2 separate regions of the Homo sapiens genome follow, and region 1 is linked to region 2. The links come from fine-mapping of genetic effects on gene expression. A gene starts in region 2. The other region holds a variant in brackets. All regions are shown on one strand. Distances are between the middles of the regions. Region 1 overlaps C8A (complement C8 alpha chain). Region 2 holds the start of C8A (complement C8 alpha chain).

Evidence for each region. PIP is the estimated chance that this variant, and not a neighbour inherited with it, causes the effect. A credible set is the group of variants that fine-mapping cannot tell apart.
Region 1: its variant is the best candidate, but not a certain one, in a credible set for the expression of C8A in lung (GTEx, PIP 0.58).

What each region holds. Positions count from the first base shown.
Region 1 is chr1:56,899,997-56,904,996 of GRCh38, forward strand. The region is part of intron 7 of C8A (complement C8 alpha chain); the gene reads left to right. Among named protein-coding and RNA genes, the nearest start is that of C8A, 48 kb to the left of the region's middle. The variant A/G (reference allele first, on the strand shown) is at 2,553.
Region 2 is chr1:56,851,949-56,856,948 of GRCh38, forward strand. It overlaps C8A (complement C8 alpha chain), which reads left to right and starts at 2,849. Exons shown (of 11, transcript NM_000562.3): 1 at 2,849-3,030. The coding sequence starts at 2,954.

The DNA of each region.
Region 1 (5,000 bases), 48 kb after region 2:
CTTGTCATGGCTGAAATTATGGAGAAGAGTCAGAGCCTCTGAAGAACCCTTATCAAGTAGGAGGAAGACATGGGACTGTAGTCAACATTGCCTCCTTCTTCTGCCTAGCTTCCTTTCTCTAAGCTTCTTTGTAGAATGAGGTAGTCAGGGAATGAGGAGTTGGAAGGCTCCTTTCAGGACTACCATTGGCTACACACCATGCATGATGAATGTTCCTCTGCAGAATAACAGTAGCATGATGAAATGGAGCATCCATTGTGTTTGAGTATGGCATATCTTGCTTCAAGACCTGATTCTTGGGCCTGTTAGTCCTGGGTGACTTTGGCAAGTTACCTAACAATAAAAGCTAGTATTTATTGAAGACCTAATTGTGCCAGACACGTTTTAGGAATTCACTTATAGAAACAATTATCATTCCCGTTTTAAAGATTGGGAGTATGAGGCAGAAAGCCATTAAATGAGTTACTCAAGTCACTACCAGAGAAGGTGAATGGTAGGACTCTGACCCCAGAGGTTACACTCTTAACCACCACAATTCCTGCTTTTTCCAATCTTAGCCTGTAAGATGGGTAAATTCTCCTTGTCCCAGAATATTGTTCAGAGTCTCCAATGAGATAATGCAGCTGAAAGTGCTTTATAAAATATAGCATATTAATCTAGCATGAGATATTACAAAACTGTGATTTGCATCTTCAATTAAAGAAAGACCTATGACTCCTAGAACGTTTTAGAGGCATTGTCTATATAGGCTAAAGTCAGCCAATCCCCAAGCCCTCCTGGGGGGCTTGGCACATGCCAGGCTCTGTGCAGAGATTTGCAAACCCGAGAGATGACTTAGAAGCTTGTAGTCTTATAGGAAGAACAGACCAAGAAATTGACAATTACTAGAGTGAGCTAAATACTATGCTGGAGAGAAGCACAGGGATACACTGGAACATAGACATAGGGCCCTTGGGGATTAAGAAAAGGCTGTCTGGAGCTCAGTGGGAGAAGCTCAATGAAAGAGATAAAGGGACTTTCTAGCACCTGCAAAGGCACTGAGGTACTCATTTTATTCTCAGGTGTTTTGGAAGAAGTGTGAGTTTTAAAGGATAAACAGAAACACAAAGGGGACAGGTGAGTTAGCTAACACCTCCCAACTAGCCCAGCCACACACTCCAATCATCTTTTCCAATGTGATGATAGAAAATAGACTATTAGATTCTCTTTCCCATTCTGAGGCTGTCTTTGGGGGCAACCAACATAGCAAAGCAATGTAGCACATAAATCACAGCAACATGAATGGTATTTGTTTTTTGCAAAGAGATAATGAACTACACCTGCTGTTTTCCACCTAATGCTTTTAATCTGAGGAATGACAGACTTGCAGTGTTCTGGCACCTTGGAAATCAAGCTGCCTGGTTCTGCCTGAGAGCCACAGACATGCAGAAGCTCCATGGAGGTGTGAGGGTGGCTCTCCCACCTGCGCCACAACCAAGACCATGTGGGAAACAAGTAGAAGACATGGTGGCCAGACTCATATCCTTTGGGCTCCTAGCCTGTCAAGTAGCCACAGAAACAGCTCACCTTGAGACCAGACTAGACTGGGAAGCAATCCAGCATCCCACTACCTCTGTACTTCCTTAGGGACCTCAACTGATTTGCATCTCTCTCTTTTCCACTCTGGAGTTTAAGTCACATTGGCTTTTCTGAGTAGAATCTTGCTGCTGAGGAAACAAGTCCTCTGCAGGGTCTCCCTCATCTCCCATTATACTCCTAGCTTTGTCTGGCTAATCCCTACTTGTTCTACTTGTCTCTGGCTCCTTCTTCTGACCCCCACAGATGCCTTCCCTGACCCTGCTGCCCTGTGTCAGAGTCCTCCTCGCACACTACAATAATTATCTGTTTCCTTGTCCATTTCCCCACACTTGACTCTCAGCTCATAGAGGTCAAGCACTCTCCTGAGTCATCTTTATTTCTCAACTAGCTCTAACACAGTAAAACGTCATTAGGTACTTATCAAAGTTGTCTCAAATGTTCTTAAAGTATTCTGCTGTGTTCTTAAAGTCTCAGGATCATGGCATTAGAGGTCACCTTAAAAGATCGCTGGTCTTTTCTACCCTTCAAACCCTCCTGTACCCTCACAGGCAAACAGCCAGCCTCAGCTTGGTCTCCTGCAATGGTGAGAGCTCACTGCCTGCTGAAACACCTCATCTCTGCTTGACTTCTGACTGTGATAATGATCGACCTTATGCTAAGCCTAAACTTGCCTTCCTGTAGCTTTTGGCCTTTGGGTCCTAGTTCTTGCCCTTGCAACCACACAAATAAACCTTATTCTTCTTCCTCAAGACAACTCTCTGGAGGGTTTAATCCAGTTCTACTGGTCTCTCTTAAAGATAAATCTTTTTTCCTTTCTTCAAGTAAATATCCTTAGTCGCCTCTAATATTTTCAAAAGGATGTGGCTTTGAACATCTTCACCCTCATGCTTGTTCTTCTCTGATCATTCCCTATTTTTAAATTTTATTATGGTAAAAATACTTTAACATGAAATCTACCCTCTTAGCCAACTTTA[A/G]CAGTACAATACAGTGTCATTAACTATAGGGACATGTTGCTCTCAGACTTTATCTTGTATAATTGAGACTTTATGGTCATTGATTAGTAATTCTACCTTTCCTCTTGCCCCCAGCCCCTGGCAACAACCATGATACCCTTTGATTCTATATATCTGACTATTCATATATCTAATATAAGTGGAATCAGGCAGTCTTTATCCTTTTGTGACTGGCTTATTTCATATAGCAGTATATCCTCAAGGTTCAATCGCATTGTCACATATGGCAGGATTTTCTTCTTTTTAAAGGCTGGATAATGTTCATTGAAGAAAATCATATTTTCTTATTTCATTTTTTAAAGCATTTTTGCACACAGCTCTGAGTTTCCCTAATCTATGGAGAGGAGAGTGAGATTACTTCCTCCTTCATTTTACTAATTATAATTTGTACCCTGGTTTCATTACCCTACTGAGTGGGGAGTAATCTAAAACTCTAAGGCCTTTTCTTTTGTTCTCCCGCTAAGCTGTCTATTTCTCACTGTGCTTATTCATTTGGTATTTTGTCTGTAGGGTAGGATGTTAAAGTTTTCCCAGTTCAGTCTCATTTTGCTATGCTTGGTGATATGGTTTGGCTGTGTCCCCGCCCAAATCTCATCTTGAATTGCAGTTCCCAAAATCCCCACGTCTCATGGGAGGAATCTGGTGGGAGGTAATTTAATCATGGGGGTGGTTACTCTCATGTTGTTCTCATGATAATGGGTGGGTTCTCATGAGTTCTGCTGGTTTTATAAGGGGGTTTCCCCCTTTGCTTGGCACTTCTTCTTGGTGCCATGGGAAGAAGGATGTGTTTGCTTCCCCTTCTTCCATGATTGTGAGTTTCCTGAGGCTTCCCCAGCCATGCTGCACTGTGAGTCAATTAAACTTCTTTCTTTTATAAAATCACCCAGTCTTGGGTATGTCTTTATTAGCAGCATGAGAATGGACTAATACACTTGGTCAGTGTATCCACCCAGCCTTTTGAGACCTTTTTGGATCCTGTTTCTTTAACTGACTTAGCCTTGGCTTCTTCTAGTTCTTATTCTGAGTAGATATGATGGAACTGGCTACTAAGTCCATATCCAAGGCATTGACAAAGGTATCAACTGAGACAGGATGCCAGAGTCCTGTGGCAAGCCACCAGAGATACTCTGTAGGACCACCATACTCAACATCTGATCCAAGATCCAATGAAGAGGAATCATCTGGGATACTTGTCTGAAAAACAGATTCCTGATTTCATAGAAATATACAATTAGAATTGATAGAGGTTGGGCCTAGTTACCTATATTTTTCAAAAGTACTCCAGATGATCTCAATGTACAGCCTGGGTTGGGATTGATCAACTCCAGAGCTCACTGAGTTCAAAAGCCCCAAATAAACTGCAGTTTGACCTGGTCCAAAGTTAAGCCTAAGGAGTGCAGCCTGATGGGATGAGGTGGAGCAATGGCAGAGGATTGTCTAGTTCCATGAATATAGTCAGTCTATCCACACTACACACCTATCTGGGCAAGTTCTTTATAATGGCTCCAGACCTTTCTCTGTTCCTTTCACCCCAGACCCCCACCTCCAACTCTTTCTGTTTATCTCTCTGGTTCTGCGTCCTGGCTTCCAATGCCAGTTTCAACTCCTGGATTTGGGTACCAGGTTTGACTTCCTCTGACCCGACCCCAACTTGTTAGTGTCATTTTCCCACAGGCTCACTGTAGACAGCTCTGATTTTGGCATCTCTTACAGCCTCTGATGAAAGACTCCTTTCTAGCCCTGGTATATTGAAACAAAAAACTCTCGGGATACAGATTGGTCTTCATTTAAGATATGGCCCCCAGCCTGCTAACTTCTCAAGGGCAGGATCTTACCTTTGCAGTTTTGCATCATATTCACATTAGTTATATTCTCAAGGTGTCTACATTGCCCAATATGCGATATGCTGGGGATGGTACACAGTAGGTGCTTACTACATTTTCCTCTCAGATGGCAGAATTCTTTTGTCTGAGGCAATAACTGAGATTAGTAAAATACCACAGGCTTCTAAACATAACAGACTTGAGCGTGAATCTCAGCTTCACCATTTTTTAACTGTATGGCCTTAGGCAATATAATTAACCTTCATGAACCTCAGGCATCTCAGCTATAAATGAAAAGTATGAGCTAAGTGTCTAAGAGTGCTTGGGCTCTCAGGTTCTATGATTCTTTGTAAGTCACAGACTCCCCTTGCTGGCTGGGACCCTCTTTGGGGTCTTAGATGGCAAATCTCTGCAGTCAAGTCATGCTTCTCAAGTCAGACTGGAATTCTCTTCTCCCAGCATCACGTGGCAGGCTGTTGCCAGATCTTTCATGAGCATAATCACACAACAGGCATCCTCCAGCCCCCATTAATCAGCCTGTCCTGTGGCTTTAATTCAGCAGCACTCCACCATCCACCTAAGTAAT
Region 2 (5,000 bases):
GTGGCGTGATCTTGGTTCACAAGATCTGATGATCCTCCCACCTCTGCCTCCGAGCTCAGGTGATCCTCCCACCTCAGCCTCCCAAGTATCTGGGACTACAAGTGTATGCCACCATGCTTGGCTAACTTTTGTATTTTTTGTGGAGACAGGGTTTCACCATGTTGCCCAGGATAGGATAATGATTTTTAATCTCATGAGATTATTTTGAGAATCAAATGAGAAAATATGTCTAATCATATTCTGAAATAGTAATCTATTTTTAATTGCTTATTTGCTTATTCACTCAATCAACAACAATTTCCTATTAAAGATTTTATTGTTAAGTGATATGGATGATTATAAATAAGAATCAGACACAGAACTTACACTAAAGACATGTTCATTCTCCAGTTACGCCCTGCTCCCCTAGAAGAATATGAAACAAAAATTATAAGTGCTGCTAGCACATTTATGAGGTTGAGCTTCCAAGCAGACACCTTTTAGATGGAGCCACCAGCAAAAGATCCATGATGGATCTGACATTTGAGAAGATGCTTGGCAAAAAGGGAGGAGATGACGGATGAAGATAGTTCAGATGGAAGGCCCAGTGTGAGCAAAGCCACAGCAGCAGCAAAGCATGAGGAAGGTGAAGGGAACCTAGACTATGCTGTGGGGGATCATTGCAGAGTTGTGGTTGATAAGGCTGCAAAAATGGGCTGGGACTCATTTATGGAGGAATTTGGACTTTTACTCTTAGAGATAATGGGGGAGCCACTGCAGCTTTCTGAGTAGGACAGTGATGTTGTCAGAGATTGTTTCCTTGATGATGAATCCAGCAGTGCTAGAGAGGGAGGGTTGAAGTGAGAAGTGGAGGCCCACTAGGAGTGGGTAATGAGAGTTACAGAGAGATGAGGCCCTGATATGGATCAAAGACAGTGAGGATGAAGGAGAGAAGCTTGGCAGGAAAATATTACAGAGGAATATGGTGGGGTATAAGGGACCGTGCTGGGGGTGGGGTGGGAGAGGTGATAAAGGTTAAGGAAGAGTCCTAAAGCCATTGAGGGCTTGGGTAAGGAGAAAAGACATCAGAGACATTTAGAGAAGGAGCTGCTTTAAGAAGGAAGACCCGATTGCTTTTATTTCAGGGATCAGGGGAAGGCAGACCAGTTTTTCTGTGGGGCAGTGTTTCCCAGCCTAGGTACTCTTGATATTTTGGGCCAGACAATTTTTTGTCCTGGGCACTGTAGGATGTGTGGCAGCATCCCTGGCCTTTACGCACTAGGTGCCAGTAGCACAACTCCCCAAGTTGTGATAACATAAATATCTCTGAACATTGCCAAATATCCCCTGAGGGCAAAATCACCCCCAGTGGAGGACACTGTTGTAGCGGAGGTTGTCTCCTCATGAGAAAAGCTGTGGGAGGAGTGGGGGAACTTGAGCTACACTTCCCAGGGGGCTCTGTGGATCTGTTTCAGGAACTTTGACTACGGATGAGAAAGGATGGAAGTTGGTAGAAAGAGGTGGCCTCCAGATGTGCCATCCTGAACTGGCCCCAGGGTGTCCAGATAGAATACCCTCCATTGTCCTCCATATCTTCAGTGAAAGCAAAATGAAATGCTAGTCACGCTGGAATATTGTGGAGCAAACAGAAAGTGTGGTTTTCAAAGTAGGGTAGAACTGAGGCCAAGAGGACCAAGGAGTCAAAATGAAAAGAGGTAGGAGAAAGAGAGACACAGAAATCACAGGCTCCGGGGACTTCCCAGGACCCAGAATCCACATTTACTTCTGTCAAGTTTACCAAAATCTCTGAGAAAAGGGAGATGATAACAATTTGGTGCCTTTAAAAAAATCTCCGCATTTAAATCAGAAACACATTTTCTTAAGCATACAAGTCATTCATTAAAATTTCTCCTAACTTTGAGATCAGTAATGATACTACTGGACAGTCCTGCTAATGAGAGAATCTAAATATTCCCAAGGATATTGAGACAGCTATACAACCTTGGGCAAGTTAGTTACTTTCTCTGGGCCTCCATTTCTTCATCTTCATTAATTCCATCTAAATGGAATTAATAATTTCCATCTCATATCCCTGCTATGAAAATTAAATAAGACATATGAAATGCCTGCCACATAGTAGCCATTAAATTATTGTCTGTGTATCTATCCATCATCTATGTATTTACCTACCTATCTATCCATCCATCTCAATTTAATTTAATTTATGTCTTGAAGAGTAAGAGATTTTAGGCAGGTATGGCACCATTAGTCCTGATGTGTGGTTTTATTGACATTATAATTCTAGAGAGTGCTTCTGGAGATGTCTATTTAAGACATTTGGCCCCCTCAATAAACAGATACCCTGGATCTCAATGATGCCCAATGTCTGTATGAAAAGTGGAAAGTCCATTGAATTACACATATATTTCAGGATTTAGATGTTTGGCAACGTACAGTAGAACCTTCATGTAATGGTTAGCATTTCCTACATTTTTCTGAGTGCTTTATGTCTGAGTTGATATACCAATATTAGCCTTGTTTCAGTCTTGCAAAATAGATTGATCTGACCTCAGAAGTTCCAAGAGACACTGAAAAAGACCAGGAATTCTAGAACTGCATCTTGGTTTGGTTTTTGCCTCCTTTTGAAAATAAGACCTCTTTGCTAAGCTGGTATTAGTTAAATATCTTCCTTTCCTTAACCACACGGATATTGTTTTTCAAAAGGTCTAAAGGGCAGTGGCCTTTGGTGCCTGGAACACTTTTAGAGTATTTAGGTAATCAATACCCTGGTTACTATTTAACCATATTTGAAAGAGAATCAAGTGAGTTCTGTGCAAATCAATGTGTATCTGGGTGAGTTTCCAACATCAGATAGATCTTACAGGTCCCAGCCTGTAGACATCTTTTACTCCAATTTCCTGAATAGATAGCTTTATTCCTTCAAGGTAATATAGTGCGGTGGCTTCTGGCTGAGATGTTTGCTGTTGTTTTCTTCATCTTGTCTTTGATGACTTGTCAGCCTGGGGTAACTGCACAGGAGAAGGTGAACCAGTAAGTGGGCCATATGTCTCTGCAAAACTTGCACGTAGGAATCACCTGCTGGGGAACTAAGACACTTTTATGTTTGCAGCAGAGGCTGTGTTAGAATGGAAAATAACCTCTTTTCATGTTATTACTACTCCTGTGGAGGAGGATGGGACAGTGAAAAGACCGTGCACTTGGAGTCAAATTGGTCTATGTGTAAATCACAGCTCTAATGCTTAGAAGCTGAATAATTCAGGGTAAATCATCTCATCGGTTTGATCCTTAGTTTCCCTAGCTGTAAAATGAGAATAATAATACCTCTTCTATAAGAGTTAATGTAGATAAAATAAGATCCTGAATATAAAATGTACTCAGCTTATAGTAGACACTTAATAAATGACAGTTCTCCTGAGTGGTGCTGAACAGTTAACTTAACCCCTACTTTCTTATCTGTAAAAGAGCATCATAAGAGTGCTGTCTCATAGTTTTGGGGGAGGATAAAATTAGATAATGTGTTCAAAATCACTGTGGGGAAGGCAAAGGACTATAGAGATGCTGGGTCATTTGATTCTAAAAATGACTTTATCTTTTGCTATGGGATAATAGAGGGAGGTGATGTAGTTTCATATGTACATTGTGTTTTACCCATTCTATTTTCTTGAGATTTCCAAGCTTGCTTCATGGGTTTTTTTTTTTTGGTATCTTAATATTAAGTATTTTGTGGAGCCTAAGCAGTCCTTTATTTCACCTTCGGGATAGCTTTAAAGCAATCCCTGTCTCCCAAACATTAAAGATTTTAAATAGAATTATTTAATTCTAATTCTTGATAGATGATGCAATTTTGAATCATTAGTGCTTTTAAATGCTAGAGCAAGTGAGAATTCCTTTAAGTAACAGTTCAGAAGGGAGGAAAGCATTTTTAAAAGCAGTTAATTTGTAACTTGTATTTAAAGGAAATACAATTTTGAAATCAGAAAATTCATCTGTAATAATTAGAAGATAAAGGCAAGAGAACTGTGTAAAGGAAATCTCCGCCGAGATATTCTTAATTATAAAAGCTTATCATTGTAATCCTTTTTGAAAATGAACAAAGAGTCTTGATGTTTGATGAACTTATCAAACAAGACAGACCAGTGAAGGGGCAAATTTCAAGTCAAGGCAAAATGGAACCAATTAAATACTTTACAAAGTGCTGAAGGAGGAAATCATGAGGTCTTTGTATCTAATGCCAGTGTGTCTGACACTGACTTTGAAAGTGAAAAACTACATGGTGAAATGATTTTATTAGGTTCAAATTCTGGCACTGACATTCACTAGCTGTCTGATCTCAGGCAAGTTATTTAATTTTTCCAAGCTTCATTTTCCTTACCTGTACAATGGGAGGAAAGTAAGAACAAAAATTAAATGCATGAAAGTACTTAGATCAATACCTGTTACCTATTACCTAGTAATCATTCAGTGAAAGCTGTCACCAGTGCTGCTGTGTGATTGTTATTGTTATTTTTTGGTATTTCCATTCCCTTGATGGTTGACAATAATCAGACAAAACAAATTTATAATATGCCAATTGGCATGGATCTTTCTGATCAGTCAGAGATTTTAAACTTTATTTTTAAGTAATAGCACTCTTTTTCCCTGCAAAATAAAATTTCACATGAACCCTAACATTGAAAACATATTATATAGTTTTACATTTTAATGGTACACATTTATTTTATAAGTTCATGTTTAACATTTGCTTATTATAAAATCTTAAAAATTTGTTGAGAAAAACATTTTAAAACAATGGTGATGGAAGGAAGTTATAATCTTCAGCCTAAAAATCAGTGGATCTCTATTACATATTTTATACAAATTTATTTTATAAGTTCATGTTTAACAGTTGCTTATTATAAAATCTTAAAAATGTGTTATTTGAGAAAAACATTTTAAAACAATGGTGATGGAAGGAAGTTATAATCTTCAGCCTCAAAATCTGTGGGTCTCTATTACATATT